2 separate regions of the Homo sapiens genome follow, and region 1 is linked to region 2. The links come from fine-mapping of genetic effects on gene expression. A gene starts in region 2. The other region holds a variant in brackets. All regions are shown on one strand. Distances are from middle to middle. Region 1 overlaps MCF2 (MCF.2 cell line derived transforming sequence). Region 2 holds the start of MCF2 (MCF.2 cell line derived transforming sequence).

Region 1 (8,349 bases), 120 kb before region 2:
AACGGTAAACTATCACACAAATATGTATTATGGTCATCATAGTATTAGGAGAAACAATATCTACTTTTTTAAAGACTGCATTTCAGAGTCAATGCTGTACAGCTTTGTGATTATCCATGCCATTATCCTTTTTTTTTTTTTTTTTTTTTTTTGAGACAGAGTTTCGCTCTTGTTGCCCAGGCTGGAGTGCAAGGGCACTATCTCAGCTCACTGCAACCTGCACCTCCTGGGTTCAAGCGATTCTCCTGCCTCAGCCTCCTGAATAGCTGGGATTACAGGCATGCGCCACCACAACCGCCTAATTTTGTATTTTTAGTAGAGACGAGGTTTACCCTCTTATACTAACAGTAGAACTGCCAAATGTAATTGATTCCTCTGAAGGGCACCAAGGAGCACTCTACCTCCAAGCATCACTCCTACCTTCCAAGCTGGTGACTTTAGAAAAGTAGGGATTTACTCCCAAACAGTCCTACCTCCTCTTTAATAGCCCACTGGTATCCTACCAACTTGCAAACTATTCCTTCTATAAACACTTTAACCTTAAAGCAACCTCCTTTAATTTTACAGGGTGCTCCCTTGCTCTAATATGCTGAGATTTTATATCATTAGTGTATTTTTGAGAACACACTAAAATATATCCCCCAGATGTTATTAAATCGTTTTTAATGTATAATGCTTATTTCCTTTATTTTCTAATCTGGAATCCAAACTGGTTTTTAAAGTGTATTTGAAGCCCCTTTGTTCTCTGATTTTATTTCACATGCCTGGATGGAAAACACAGTGGTGAAGCTCTACTAAAGATAAAACTGGGATTTTAGAGATTTGGAAAGATTGACTATCTATTTCATCAACATCAGCAGAAGCTCTATGTATAGGTCAAACAGGTTCTACTTAAAGACAGAAGTGCTTCCTGATGTTCATAATAAGATTTATTTCAACTATTTTAGCAATGGCTTACTCCTAATGGCCTCAAGGATGCTGACAAAAGATTGCCCCTATGTGCTCCACCTATATTTCATCAGTAAAACTGCCTCAATAATTTTAATTTACTATATTATTACTAACCATGAGGGGCCTATTTTCTTCTTCATTTTCATCATAAGTAGGGTAGAAATAGTTGCTTGACCATTCCGCAGGTTCTTCAGAGATTTCTGCAGATTGTGATGCCTCAGTCCAAACTATAAGAAAAGTGTGGAATGTGGCAGTTACTTCATGGTGCTAATTTACCACAAGGTGAGAAGTAAAACTAGCTGTAATCCTTTAAAAAGTTGAATTTAAAAAAATGGATTAACCAATCTAATGTAAGCAGCAAATTAACAGATCTCATCCTGGCCACATTAAACTATTCATGCAACCTGGGAAAAGTCATTGTCATCTTTTTCTAACTTGGTTTCCTCACCTGTCAAATGAAGGCATTAGTACTATGCTCTCTCCTTACTTCTTTGGGGGCCACAGCATAGATGACCTGAGGGAAGTGACCTTTAATTGGATAAATGGAAACTCTACAAGGCTATCATTACCTTTTTCTCCTCAACCAGTAGAGAACTCTTCCATATTAAGGATCATCATATTAAAGTGTTGAGTATCAGGCACTCTGTTAGGCATTTCTCCAAAGAAGTCTATGCTGTTGATCCTAGAGTTGTTTAGGTGATCCTCATGTATGCTTCTACAGCACTTCGTACTTCCCTGCTGTAACACTCGCCAAATTTACTTTTAATTGCTTGTTTAACTATCTTTCTATTCTCCTAGCTTCATGAGGATGGCAGCTGAGTGTATCCTAGTTAGACTATATGCCTAGCACTTTGCATAACTCCTGGAATGCAGATCATGCTATGTCAATATTTGTTGAATTAAATAAAGTATTTAAAATCACTTCAAATAAAACCATTCACAGAGGAAGAATAAATATTTCGGCTGTTAATGACTCTTCTCTATTCATTAAACCAACGGTAAGTGAAATGCGCATTCCTTGAAGCCAGTATATATGTTTTATTCATCACTATATCCTTTATAGCAGGGGTTCCCAAACTTGACCATGCATCAAAATCACAGAGAGAGCCTGTTAAAACTCAAGTGGCTGGGCCTTGTTCCCAGAGTTTCTGATCCAGAAGGTCTGAATAGAGCAAGAGAATTTGTCTTCTGTAAAAGTTTCCAGGTGATGTTGATTCTAGTGGTCCAGGGACCACACTTTGACAACCAATACTCTCTAGTGCCCATCAGAGTGTCCTGCATATGCAAGACATGAGAGCCTTATAAAAATGGGTTAACTGTATTTTGTTTATACAAAAATACCAAGTGGGTAGATTTCCAAATTAATAATACGAGGTAAAAATTTGCACACCCATGAGTCTCGTCTTAAGATGACCATGACACATACCTGTATTTGCTTCTGCCTGAACTGACGCAATTGCCTCACAGACCTCCACCACAGTGCTGGTGTGTTCCAATTCAGTTTCCTCAGTACTTATAAAAGCTCCCTGTTGCTTTCTGAAATAGTGATGTATAAAACTAAGTGAGCTTTTGTACAGTTTACAAGTAAAAAGAAATTTAAAGTGGTATTTCTTCCATTGATACCAAGTGTTAAGAACATGCTGAGAATCCATCCAAACAGCCAATACTCCCTATTTAAATCTGTGTGGCAATAGGTTATAATATACAAAAGCTTAAATCTCAGATCCAAGCCAGCAGGTTCTCTATTATGTAAGGAGAAAAACTACTCCCTTCTAGACCCAAAGTAAGGGTATTGTATACAATCCCCGTTGCTCTGTGGACTTATAACATTAATGAATTAGGTAAGTTGTTGTATATAAATGAAGATGAAACCTTCAACTGATTCATATTGTTGAGTATGTACCAGCTACTATTAAGTCAATTACTGCATAAAACCTAAAGATGTTACTCCTATAATGTACGATAAAAGATGGAGCTTTTTGAACTCTGAAAGATAAAGACTTTATCTGCAACTTTTAAATGGTTCTCCTAAATCTCCACGTGAACCACCATATGTTTCATCTGATTTTAGCTACCTCAGAAAGATGACATGCAGCGAAGGAAAAAACAGTATTTCTAATAAGTCATTCAATGATCACCACAGCAAGCAGATGCTGTGTGGTGAATCTCTGTGCCAGGCCTTCAGAATCAATGAGAGAATTCTTTCTGTATATATGCAAATGTTCAGCGAGAACTCCACCTTTTGGAATTTCTAGAGGCTTCCTTAATGACTCCTGGTTGTGTCCAGGCTCAGTTCCCTCCCAGGATCCATACCTTCTCTCTATGTAGAGAGAGGCCAAATCACCAGCAAGAGGTCCCCATCAAGGGACTGTAAAACTGTGAGCCAGTCCTTCATTTGCTCTATTCCCATATTCTTACAACCCTCTTTTTCCAGTCAGATCAAAGGTGACCAAAAATACTTTGAAAAAAAAAGCTTATGAGCACAGCCTCCTTTCCTGTCAGCCTACATGTAATTCTTCCAATGATATATTAAAAATAAAGCATTTTCAATCATGTTTAGAAATCAACCCAAGGGATAACTATTAAGAACTATCAGCCTCCAGTATAAGGCTGGACCTCAGAAAATGATGTTTATGGAATTTGATGAGTTATTGCTAAATTGGTGGATGGTTCTTGTCAGAGATACTTTAATTACATTGCTTCATGTTACATACAGAAAACAAAAGATTGCAGGAGTGGTATTTCTTAAAGAATAATCACTTACTCATCATTCTGCTGAAGAGAAATCTGAAACTTATCCCGTTCTGTTAATTGATCCTGTTGCTTTCTTTTTTTAACTGAGAAATAAAACAAAGCATATTATCATTCAGAAGTCACACTTCTTACTTCCTTGAAGGCCAATGACTTTCTCTCTCTCACACACACACACACACACACACACGCATCCTTGCCATTAGACTTAAGCTTCACAGACTTGAAATAATCAGAGGGAAGGCCAGTCTCAAGTTTGAATTTGGAAAGGTCTGGACCATATAATATTTTATTCAAGAAGTTCAAGTTTAGAAGTAGAACTGGCTCCCATTCCATCATTATAGAGCAATGATTACTCGAGATATTAAGCAGAGTCACCTCATGGAAAGGACTGGGGATTACCACAATCAGTTCACTGTGTTGCTTCTCAACTGCTTCTTAAGCACAAGGGTTCATTTTCTAGTGTAAAGTTCATTCTTCAAAATAGTTTAAACAATCCTCTGAATCTCAATCTCCTACTAATTAAATTAACAAATCTTCTCATTGTAATAGTATAAAGTAAATATCAGCCCCATTCTCTGGAAAAATAATTTAAAAATCTGAGTCAATAAGCTGTTACTATACTTCTTGTTCTGAAGAATGCAGGCTTGAATTTACCTGTCAAAAGTTCCTGCTGCTTCAACAAAATATTTCTTATTTCTTTTAGCCACGTCATCTTCACATCTACATTAGAAGCCTAAAGATTAAAAAAAAAGCGGGAGGGAGGTGGTACACATTTCCTTTTAAAAAGGATGTACTATAATAAAACAAATGTAATTGTGTACATAAAATATGATCTACTCCCTATAACACCATACTCAAATCTTAACCGTTTGATTGTTAAAATTTTTATGAAGCAAATAATTTGCTATCAGATTAGATGAAATAATACAGTCAGAACCATTTTTGCTGTAATCCCAGGACTTTGGGAGGCCAAGGTGGGCAGATCTCTTGAGCCCAGGAGTTTGAGACCAGCCTGGGGAACATAGGGAAACCCCATCTCTACTACTACTACTACTA[C/A]TAATAATAATAATAATAATTAGCCAGGTGTGGTGGCATGTGCCTGTAGTCCCAGCTACTTGAGAGGGTGAGGTGGGAGAATCGCTTGAGCCTGGGAGGCAGAGGTTGAAGTGAGCCGAGATCACACCACTGCACTCCAGCCTGAGCAACAGGGTGAGACGCTGTCTCAAAAAAAAAAAATCCATTTTGAAATTGCCCTTAAATAATGGTAAAATAATGCTTGGATGAAACTGTGAAATATAATTTCACTTATTTTGTCTTTACAGGAGGATTCTTTTTAAAATATAACATTTTGATGTTTAATTTTAGTAAAATAAAACAAGCTCTACTATTTCTGAAAAGGCCATCTATTGCAGAATAACCTTGGTGACTGATGGTAACATGAAATCCTCCTTAAATATCCTCCCATCACTTACAAGATGTTTGTTAAATGATACCAAATATTATATCTTAAGCAAGCCAAGAAAACATATTTTTATAGATTGCAGTCACCTAGTAAAGAATTACAACAAACAAAAAACACTGAGCATTTTTAACAGATAACAGCACATTGACAACTCCAGATACAAATATTTATTGCAATGACAACATCCTCTTGAAATGTTCTGATTCCTCTTCCCTTCCCTGAAACATGTTGGACCCTATACAACTGGCCAGGGCTTTAACCATGTTCTTTAGAAGCAGAAAGCAAGTCTGAACTGTCACATCCCCATGTCTCATAATCAGGTACCCCTAGAATGCTTAGCATAAGAGGAACTCAGAACTATTATAATTCCATAACTTGGAAATTTGATGGGGACAGAGAAGTACCTGCCAAGCTGTCAGCTCTAGTTGATAAGTCTCTTATGTAGTTGTGAAAACTTGAAGCCCTAGAGAACACCACAGGCATATCTCAATGTAACTACTAGAAAACATTTAAATACATCACAAAGAATATTCAAATAATATTTAACTGACCTACATGAAAGGGGTGGAAATTTTGAAATGCGACCAAAATTATTTTTGTTTATAAATTCGGGCTTTTGTATTTCAATGCAGGTTTGGGTTTCTAGAAGAATTTTCAAATGACCAACCTGGACAATATAAACTTCTTCCTTTTCACCATACCAGATTTCAAACTTGCGGTTATCACCTTTTACATATTCAGTGATTCCAACTTCATCCATCTATAATAAATAAGTCAAAATTTTCATGAGCATTTTATTTTGAATATGAAATTACATTAAATCTACCCTATCATATTCTAAGTGAAACAGAATTTCTCTTGGGCAGAAAAATACATGTTATATTAAATGAATATGAAATAGTAATTACAATCATAGACGAGAGTATTTAAATGTTTTCATTGAACTATGCACTTTATAGTTCAGATTGCACGCTTCATTTCAGTGGTTGACACAAATGTTATAAATCTGAACATCCAAGTAGCCCATCTAAGATCTAATTATGTTATAAATTAATAGTACACTATTAAAACAAATTATTGAGTCAAACACAGAAGTCATTAAACATCAATAAAGAAAAGCCACTGAAAATTAATTTAAATAGTTATTTAGAATAATCATTTGACAGACCACTTAATCCTACAAATTATAATTTATTTTGATAGAAGTCCTACAAGTTATAAACATCTAATTCATGGGACAGGAGAGAACCAGCCAGGTACACAAGGATCTCTCTATTTTCCACCAATCCCTTGGCCTTTCTAAAAAAAAAATAATAATAATAATATGTAATGGGACATTGTTGTCTTTTTGTACCCAGTGAAACTTCTGTACACAATATCTCTTCCTTATTCCTTACCACAATTTTTTCTTTTCCTCAGCGTGATTGTGCAAGTCATAAACTCTTCCATTTTCTTTCATCATTTTCTGCTAACAGCTTGGCTAATTGCATTTTGGGCAATCTCACTCCTTTGCACAAACATTCTTTTAGTTCCTTTCTGCCTTCCTCTTTTCTTTCAATTCTTAACCTAATTATCTAAAGGAGTATCTCACTCTCTGTTCTAGTTATGAGCCCCCCAAATGGCCCTTATTAGAGCTAATAAGCATTAAAGATAGTGCTAGGGAGATCGCCATACCAAGGAGAAGAAAAGCACTTATGCTTAGAAATGTAATTTAACATAACATATTAATGAAAGAACCTGTAACATCCACCCTGAACGTAGTAAGAAGTTATTTTCACAATGTCCCAAACTATCTTTATATTCTCACTCCATCATTCCAACTAACCTACTTCTGCTCAAATATCACAATTTAAGATGAATAGTAATCTCATATTCAATATTTTTAAAAATTAATTTTGTTTCATTACATGGTTTTGTCTTAATAACATGATAAGCTGGAAGGCCCACAGGCTTTGAAGTTAGAGAGGTCTGGATTGGAATACATCTCTACCATTCACTAGCTATGTGTCTTGGTGCAAGTTGCTTAACTTTTCTAAACTTCAGTTTCCTCAACTATAAAATAGAAAGAACACCTATTTCATAGGGTTGATATAAGGACTAAATAGCATGGAGTAAATGCTTAGATCCTATAATGAGCTTTCTAAAGTGTGAGTTTGCTTTCTACTCTTTCCCCTATTTAAGTTGCAATTGTTTTGTTATTTTTTTATTGCAAACATATAGTACATCATTATCAATTAAGTGAACTTTTCTAAGTTGCCCTGGAAATCTAACCATTATGTGTTGCACATAGTAAGGACTATGTGCAATTTGTAAAATTTTTAAAAATCGATGATAATAAACACATGAACTAAGGAATCTGAAGGACTCGAATCTCCCCATCTGGTCAACTTTGACTTTAGATAGGGCCTTTCCTTGCATATAAGCAGCCAACTTAAAATATAACATATAAATAATTAGAAAGTACATGGTCAGGCCATGGGATCCCAGCTTTGTATGGTGCAGTCAAAACAAGAGTTCATTTAAAGTGAGAGACATAGACAAAGGCAACAACAGACACTGGGGACTACCAGAGGAGGGACGGAGGGAGAGGGACAAGGGTTGGAAAACTAACTCTTGGGGACAATGCTCAGTACCTGGGTGATGGGATATTTGTGCCCCAAACCTAAACATCATGCAATACAGCCAGGTAACAAACCTGCAGATGTACCCCCTGAATCTAAAATAAAAGTTAAAAAAAAAAGTGAGAGAGAAGGTTCAGCAGTGGAATATCTGCAATGATCCTCTCTACCAAGGGTAAGACTGTGAAACTAATAACCCAGATTCTTAAATAACACATTGACTAGGAATGCTAGCAATTGCTTAATGCTGGAATCTCATGATAAGCAGGCAAGCAGAAGTGAGCGTAGTGAACCCTAAGAAATATCCTAATTTTTAGTGGTATCACCATTTTCCAAGTAATCCTGGTCTAAAGCCTTGTAGGCATCACTGGCTAATATTGTTTATTAAGGATACTTGGCATTACTGGGGAACCAAAGAAGAATCAGAAAGATTTTCTTCCTTCAATGTCAGGTATTATTTAATTTTTGTAGCTAGTAAGTCATCAAGCCCATCTGTCTACCTTCTATTGAAATGTTTCTTGAATCTATCCCACCTTCTCTGTTTCCATGGTACCTATTGCAGTT
Region 2 (8,349 bases):
ATAAATTTGGACAGCTTAAGTAAAGTTGCAGGATACAAAATTAATGTACAAAAATCAGTACCATTTCTATGCATCAACAACATCCAGGCTGAGAGTGAAATCAAGAACACAGTCCCCAAAATCTCAAAAATCACCACTAAAGAACTTACTCATGTAACAAAACACCACCAGTTCCCCAATAACCTGTGGAAATGAAAAATTAAACAAAAATAAAGAACACAGTCTCACTCACAACAGCCACAAAGAAAATGAAATACCTAGAAATACACCTAACCAAGGAGGTGAAAAGTCTCCACAAAGAGAACTACAAAACACTGATGAAAGAAATCAGGAATGACACAAATAAATGGAAAAACATTCCATGTTCATGGATTGGAAGAATCAATATCATAAAAATGGCCATACTGCCCAAAGCAATCTACAGATTCAGTGCTATTCCTATCAAACTGCTAATGGCATTCTTCACACAATTAGAAAAAAAAAAAACTATTCTAAAATTCACATGAAACCAAAAAAGAGCCCAAATAACCAAAGCAATCCAAAGCAAAAAGAACAAAGACGGAGGCATCACACTACCCAACTTCAAACTACACTATAAAGCCACAGTAAACAAAACAACTTGGGTGGCTGGGCACAGTGGCTCACATCTGTAATCCCAGCACTTTGGGAGGCTGAGGTGGCCAGATCACTTGAGGTCAGGAGTTTGAAACCAGCCTGGCCAACATGGTGAAACCCCATCTCTACTAAAACATACACAAATCAGCCAGGCGTGGTGGCGGGCACCTGTAATTCCAGCTACTGGGGAGGCTGAGGCAGGAGAATTGCTTGAATCCAGGGGCATAGGTTGCAGTGAGCTGAGATCACACCATTGCACTCCAGCCTAGGCGACAGAGTGAGACTCAGTCTCAAAAACAAACAAACAAACAAATAAAGACAGCTTGGTAGTGGTACAAAAACAGACACATAGACCAATGGAACAGAATAGAGAACTCAGAAATAAAGCTGCACAGCTACAACCATCTGATCTTTGACAAGGCCAACCAAAACAAGCAGTGGGAAAACAATTCCATATTCAGTAAATGGTGCTGAGATAACTGGCTAGCCATATGCAGAAGATTGAAGCTGGGCCCATACCTTTCTCCATATGCAAAAATTAACTAAAAATGGATTAAAGATTTTAATGTAAGATCTCAAACTATAGAAATCCTGGAAGAAAACCTAGGAAATACTCTTTTCGACATTGGCCTTGGTAAAGAATTTTTGGCTAAGTCCCTAAAAGCAATTGCAATAAAACCAGAAATAGACCAGTGGGACCTCATTAAACTAAAGAGCTTCTGTACAGCAAAAGAAACTATCAGCAGAGCAAACAGACAACCTACAGAATGGGAGAAGATATTTGCAAACTATGTATCTGACAAAGGTCTAATACTCAGAATCTATAGGGAACTTGAAAAAATTAACAAGTAAAAACCAAATAACACCATTAAAAAGTGGGCAAATGACATGAACAGGCACTTTTCGAAAGAAGACATACAAATGGCCAACAAATATATGAAACAATACTCAGCATCACTATCATCAGAGAAATGCAAATCAAAACCACAATGAGATACCATCTCACACCAGTCAGAATGGCTATTACTAAAAAGTCAAAAAACAACAGATGCTGGCTGGCAAGGCAGCAGAGAAAAGCAAACACTTATACACTGTTGGTGGAAATGTAAATTAGTCCAGCCGCTGTGGAAAGCAGTCTGGAGATTTCTGAAAGAACTTAAAACAATTCTACCACTGGACACAGCAATCCCATTACTGGGTATGTACCCAAAAGAAATTATTCTACCAAAAAGACACATGCACTTGTATGTTCATCACTGCACTGTTCACAATAGCAAAGACATGGAGTCAACCCAGGTTCCCATCAGTGGTAAATGGGATAAAGAAAATGTGCTACATATACATTATGGAATACTAGGCAGCCATAAAAAAGAAAGAAATCATTCTTTGCAGCAACATGCACGGAGCTGGAGGCCATAATTCTAAGCAAGTTAGTGCAGGAACAGAAAACCAAATACCACATGTTCTCATTTATGAAGGGAGCTAAGCATTGAGCACACATGGACATTAATATGGGAACAACAGATATTGTGGACTACTAGAGGGTGCAGGGAGGTGGGGAGGATAAAAAAAAAAACAACTATTGGGTACTATGCTCACTACCAGGATGACAGGATCTGTACCTTAAGCCTCAGCATCATGTAATATTCCCATATGACAAATCTGCACATGTACCCCCTTATCTAAAATTAAAGTTGAAAAAAAATGAAACAAAATGACATTGAACTTCTCAATAGCAACACTGGATTCTACAAACTAATGGAAAAATAAACACAAAATCAGGGGGGAAAAGGTTTTTCAGCTTGGAACTTTATACTGCGTCAGACTCTCAAACAAAAATAAAGGTTGTCTAAGATATTTTCAGACATAATTATTATTATTATTATTATTAATAAAAGTTTATAACCCATATAAAGAAGTTAGTAGAGAATGTATTCCCCAAAAAAATGATGAAGTACATCAATGAAGAGCAAGACAATGAATCTAGGAAATAATGATCCGATACAGGAGCACAGACAAAGGGAATTTCAGAAAGAGATGTGCAGCTAGCCGGCAGAGTAACCAGCTCAGATGAAAAAAGAAGGATGGAGGGCTCTGGGAGGGAGCTGCTCCCATCCCTTTCTACCTCTTTCTCACCAAGTTTGGTGAGTTTTCCTTAGGATCTTTTTGGGCCCCTCAAGCAACTTTCAAGAACCTTGCATATCAGAGAAAAAAAGGGTTGGAGTTTCCAATCCTTTCATTCTGAGAAGACCTCTAGGTTCTTCATATAAACAGTCCCACTCCTTCCCCAGAAACTTTCTACCTCCACAAATAAATACTATAGAGGCAAGAATAAAATGTGGTTTTGCCTCACTAGAGACCCTGCTTTAAAAAATGTGAGAAACATCACCATATTCTTTTGGAAGATTGCCCTCAAGACCTCCCATTTTTCTTTGCTCTCCAAGTCTACATCCCCCCGGCTACCTTCTGGGGACCAAGGTAGTTCTTCTTGGTCTGGAAAATTTGCGTGCTTAAAAAGAACTGGACACAAATAATGGAATGGTCTTTTACCCACTGAAAATAAATAATCTGCTGTCCAAATTTATAAGCCAACCATATGCAAGTTCACAAGGCAATTTCTCAAGTCCTAATCCCTAGACGGCTCAGAGACTGAGGCCCATACATTGCATAGGAACCACACCAAGGTACAGCCATCCCATGAAGCCCAGGTGCACACCAGATTTGTTATACTAATAGTTCCAGGTTTACAGTGGTGAAGTTCTAATCCAGAGTTGAGAAATTCCCACCTGCCTTTACTTGGGAATCCTAATTATTTTAGAAAAAACTGAACAGTAGACAAAGAACTGTCAGAGAAACCCAAAGCAGGCTATTGCGGTCTGTATGGACAGATACACCTTTACAAGAACTGCACTGTGTCCTGCAAATCATTGGTCCTAGAAATGGGGGATTCTGGGGAAAAGGGGAAACTACTACAAGAATGAAAATGACTGGCTATGGGGGATGCTATCTATAAAAATATTCCAAGACTGACCCACTCATTGCCCCAATCCATTTCTTATATTACTCTAAGGTAAAGAAATACTTACCACAAATGTTTGTCCTTAAGACTGTCGCAGCTCATTCTGTTTCCTCGGCCAAAAGAATGTACAATACTCTCTGCCTGCTCCAAGAACAAAAGCCTTCTTGCTCTTAACATGAAAAAAAGTTTCAAAGCCAATCTGATGTCAGCAACTGAAAGTGTAGAGAAGCCTTGACTTGAAGTAGAACCCAGAAACAAAATTATAAATCATACACTGTATCACAGTAGAGGAAGGAGACCTAATTTTTTTTTTTATTTACAAGGACAAATCTGGAGAAACAGAACGCCCACTCAAGAGTTAGCCCGACAGTTTGAAAACAAAATACTTCTGCACAAAATGCAGAAGAAGCTGGGCATATCTTTTTTTGTACACGACAAATAAAAATTGTATGGTGTACAATATGATTTCTGATGTATGTATACATCCTGGAATGGCTAAATCAAGCTAATTAATACTTTCTTTACCTCACATATGTATCCTTTTTGTGGTGGGAACATGTAAAATCTACTCTCTTAGCAGTTTTCAAGTACACAATATATTGTTATTAACTATAGTTATCATGATGTACAATAGGTTTCTTGGCAGGGCGCAGCGGCTCACACCTGTAATCCCAGCACTTTGGGGGGCCGAGGTGGGTGGATCACTTGAGGTCACGAGTTCGAGACAAGCCTGGCCAACATGGTGAAACCTCATATCTACTAAAAATACAAAAATTAGCTGGGTGTGATGGCGGACACCTGTAATCCCACCTACTCAGGAGGCTGAGGCAGGAGAATCGCTTGAAGCCAAGAGGCAGAGGTTGCAGTGAGCTGAGATCACACCACTGCACTCCAGCCTGGGCAATAAAGTAAGACTCCATCTCAAAAAATATATACAAATAAAAATATGAAAAAAAATTTAAAAATTAAAAAATAGATCTCTTGATCTTTGTCCTCCTGTCTACGTGTAATGATGCATCCTTTGACCAACATCTCCCAAAACCCTGCCCCATCCTCTGGAAACCACCATTCTACTTTCTACTTCTATGAGTTTGACTTTTTTAGATTCCCCATAGGAGTGAGATCATACAGTATTTTTCTTTCTGTGTCTGGATTATTTCACTTAGCATAATGTCCACTAGGTTCATCCGTACTGTCACAAATGACAGAATTTCATTCTTTTTTAAAGGCTGAATAGCATTTGTGTATATATAGTATAGTATATATAGCATATACTATATACATAGCATATATAGCATATACTATATACATAGCATATATAGCATATACTATATACATAGCATATATAGCATATACTATATACATAGCATATATAGCATATACTATATACATAGTATATATAGCATATACTATGTATATAGTATATGCTATATATACTATGTATATAGTATATATAGCATATACTATATACATAGCATATATAGCATATACTATATACATAGCATATATAGCATATACTATATATACGAATGCTATTCGTATATATATACACTATATAGACACGAATGCTATCATTCATATATATATATATATATATATATATATACAGTATATATAAAAAATATTTTCTTGAGGTTGCTTCCATATCTTGGCTATTGTGAAGAGTGCTGCAATGAACATGGGAGTGTAGATATCTCTTTGACAGACTGATTTCATTTTCTTTGGATATATACCCAGTAGTGGCATTGCTGGATCATATGGTAATTGATAATATGACCATAAATGCCTGGATTTTTTCTGGGCCAGAACATTCATACTGTTTTCCATAGTGGCTGTGCTAATTTACATTCCCACCAACAAGGGCTCCCTTTTCTCCACATCCTCACAAGCACTTGTTATCTTATGTTTTTGATAATTGCTACCCTAACAGGTGCAAAATGTTATCTAAATGTGGTTTTAATTTGCATTTTTGTGATGATAAGTGATGTTGAACATTTTGTCATATACTGGTTGGCCATTTGTATGTCTTCTTTTTAAGAAATGTCTACTCAGGTTCTTTGACCATTTTTAATTGGGTTATTTACTACTTTTTGCTATTGAGTTGAGTTCTTTATATATCTTGGGTATTAACCACTTATCAGATGTATGGTCTGTAAGTATTTTTCCCATTCCATAGATGGTCTTTTGACTCAGTTGTTTCCTTTGATGTACAGAAAACTTTTTAGTTTAATGCTATCCCATTTGTCTATATTTCCTTTTGTTGTCTGTGCTTTTGGGGTCATATCCAAAAAATCTCTGCCTAGACTAATGTCAAGAAACTTTTCTTCTATGTTACTTATTTTGAATTGACACATAGCAAATACATACATATGTATATATATATATATATATATATATAAAATTTATGGAGTGCAGTGTGATGTTTTAATACATGTATACACTGTATAATGATGAAATCAGGGTAATTAGCATATCCATGACCTCATATATTTGTCATATCTTTGTGGTGAGAACATTCAGTTTGAGGTCTTACCTTTAAGTCTTTAATCCATTTTGAGTTGATTTTTGCACATGGTGTGAGATGTGTCTAATTTCATTGTTTTGCATGTGTATATCCAGTTTTCCCAACACCATTTATTGATGAGGCTGTCTTTTCTCCATTGTGTGTTTTTGGCAACTTTTTTGAAGAACAGTTGACCATAAATGCCTGGATTTATTTCTGGGCCAGAAGATCTTTAAGGTATGTCCCAACCTTAATATATGTAGATAAAGGTAAATATATATATCCAGAAAAGCTTATTAAAATACTATCATCCTTACTTGGTTCTTTTTTGTATGTTATCTATATAATTGAAAATGGACATGCATTTACTTTACAACAAGAAAATATAACACATATTTTTAAAAGATACCAAAAATAGAAGTGATCCTTTTAAAACTTAAGTGAGATTATGTCACTCCTCTGTTCATAATATTCCAGACTTCTACTGGAATTCAGAATCAAATCTAATGTCCTTATCATAGTCTACACAGCTCTACATGCTCTCATCCTTCCATACCTAATTTCAACTCCTACCAATCTCCCTCCATTTTGGTCACAGTGACCTCCTGGCAGTACCTCCAATATGCCATGAAAGCTCCTATCTTGGGGTCTGGGCATTTGCTGTTCACATGGCCTGGATTCCCCTTCATCCATATATATGAATGGCTCCCTCTCTCACTTAATTCAGTTCTCTGCTCAAATGTCACCTTGTCAGAGAGAACTTCTTTTACTACCATATCTAAAGTAGCACCTGCTATCATTCTCGGAATATTTGCTTTGATTGCATAAACACTAAAACTTTCTGTGCAATATAAAAGATACATTCTTAATGATTAATTGACACAGAGAAAAATATTTGTGAAATACATGACAACATGCACATATTCTAATATACAGAATTATAATGAGTAAAAAAGGTGAGCAACTTAATAGGACAATGGGTGAAGGAAGTGTAATTGACAAAAGAGGAAATATAAACACCCACATGTACATGGAAAATCTATTGGAACTCACAAATAAGCAAAGAAAAGCTAATATTACCAAGAGTAAACACTATTTTTCCTTTAATCCAGGAGTTGGCAAATTTTTTTTTCTGTAAACAGCTAAGATAATAGAAATGTCCCCCTTTGTGGGCCACATATAGTCTTGGTCAGACATTCTTCATTACCTTTTTTTCCCTACAGCCCTAAAGATGCTGACTGGGTTGCTGACCCCAGATCTATGAGGAATGATTAAAGATGGAGAGCACTTAATGCTGAGAATGGGGAGGGTAAACTGGCTGACTGTTGTTGCGGGCACAGATTCATATAGCTTTTCTCAAAGACAGTTTGTCATGTACATATCTTTTGCCCCAGGAATTCCACATTTTTGACTTTACACCAAGAAGCTACTCGGGCAGGAATGGAAATATTTTTGTACAGAATACATTGCCATGTTATTCATAATAGCAGGCAAGAGGAGGAGGAGAAATTTATATAATAAACTAGGAAATAGTTAAACCATGTGCATGAAATAAATGAAATGCCACACAGCTATTTAAAAGTCATATATATATGAATTAATTTATATAGAACAATCATACGACTTTTTATGGTTTAAAATTATAGTGTGTATAACATAGTTCAATAGATACAAAATTATATATGTATATATGTTGTGTATATGTGTATATATACATATACATATTCAAAAAAATATGGTTACCTCAGGGGGGTTGTGATACTAAGTGACTTTTATGTTTATATTATTAGGTATTGCTTGATTTTGAGCAAGTATCGTCAGTATAATCAGAAAAAAATAAAATTCTTATTGAATTTAGCAAAACCTCAGGTCAATTAAAATGGACTTTTGCCTGAAGTGCAACAGTTTTCTAAACTTATTCTTACAATATAATAATGCAAGATAGTTTTCACAATTTGAACAAATAGTTTTTATGGGTTTTGTTTGCTTTCTGGTTTGTTTCTTGTACCAAAAGGACAGAGTTACTTGTTAACTTGTCTTAAAAATATTCTTTTGGGAATTCTATGATTTATGCATTTTAATCTCTGCCACCTCTTTTCTCCAACTCTCTGTGAACACTCATTGGCACCATACTGGTGTGATATTCCCAACCCAGGGCACAGAGAGTGGAGGTACAAGAAAATCACCCCACTGACCACTGTACAAGAGAAGC

What was found.
Region 1: its variant is fine-mapped to the expression of MCF2 in whole blood (TOPMed, PIP 0.95).

What each region holds. Positions count from the first base shown.
Region 1 is chrX:139,584,001-139,592,349 of GRCh38, forward strand. MCF2 (MCF.2 cell line derived transforming sequence) reads right to left here. Exons shown (of 29, transcript NM_001171876.2): 24 at 5,835-5,927; 25 at 4,360-4,438; 26 at 3,716-3,788; 27 at 2,378-2,487; 28 at 1,066-1,178. Among named protein-coding and RNA genes, the nearest start is that of F9, 57 kb to the left of the region's middle. The variant C/A (reference allele first, on the strand shown) is at 4,762.
Region 2 is chrX:139,704,405-139,712,753 of GRCh38, forward strand. It overlaps MCF2 (MCF.2 cell line derived transforming sequence), which reads right to left and starts at 3,763. Exons shown (of 29, transcript NM_001171876.2): 1 at 3,702-3,763.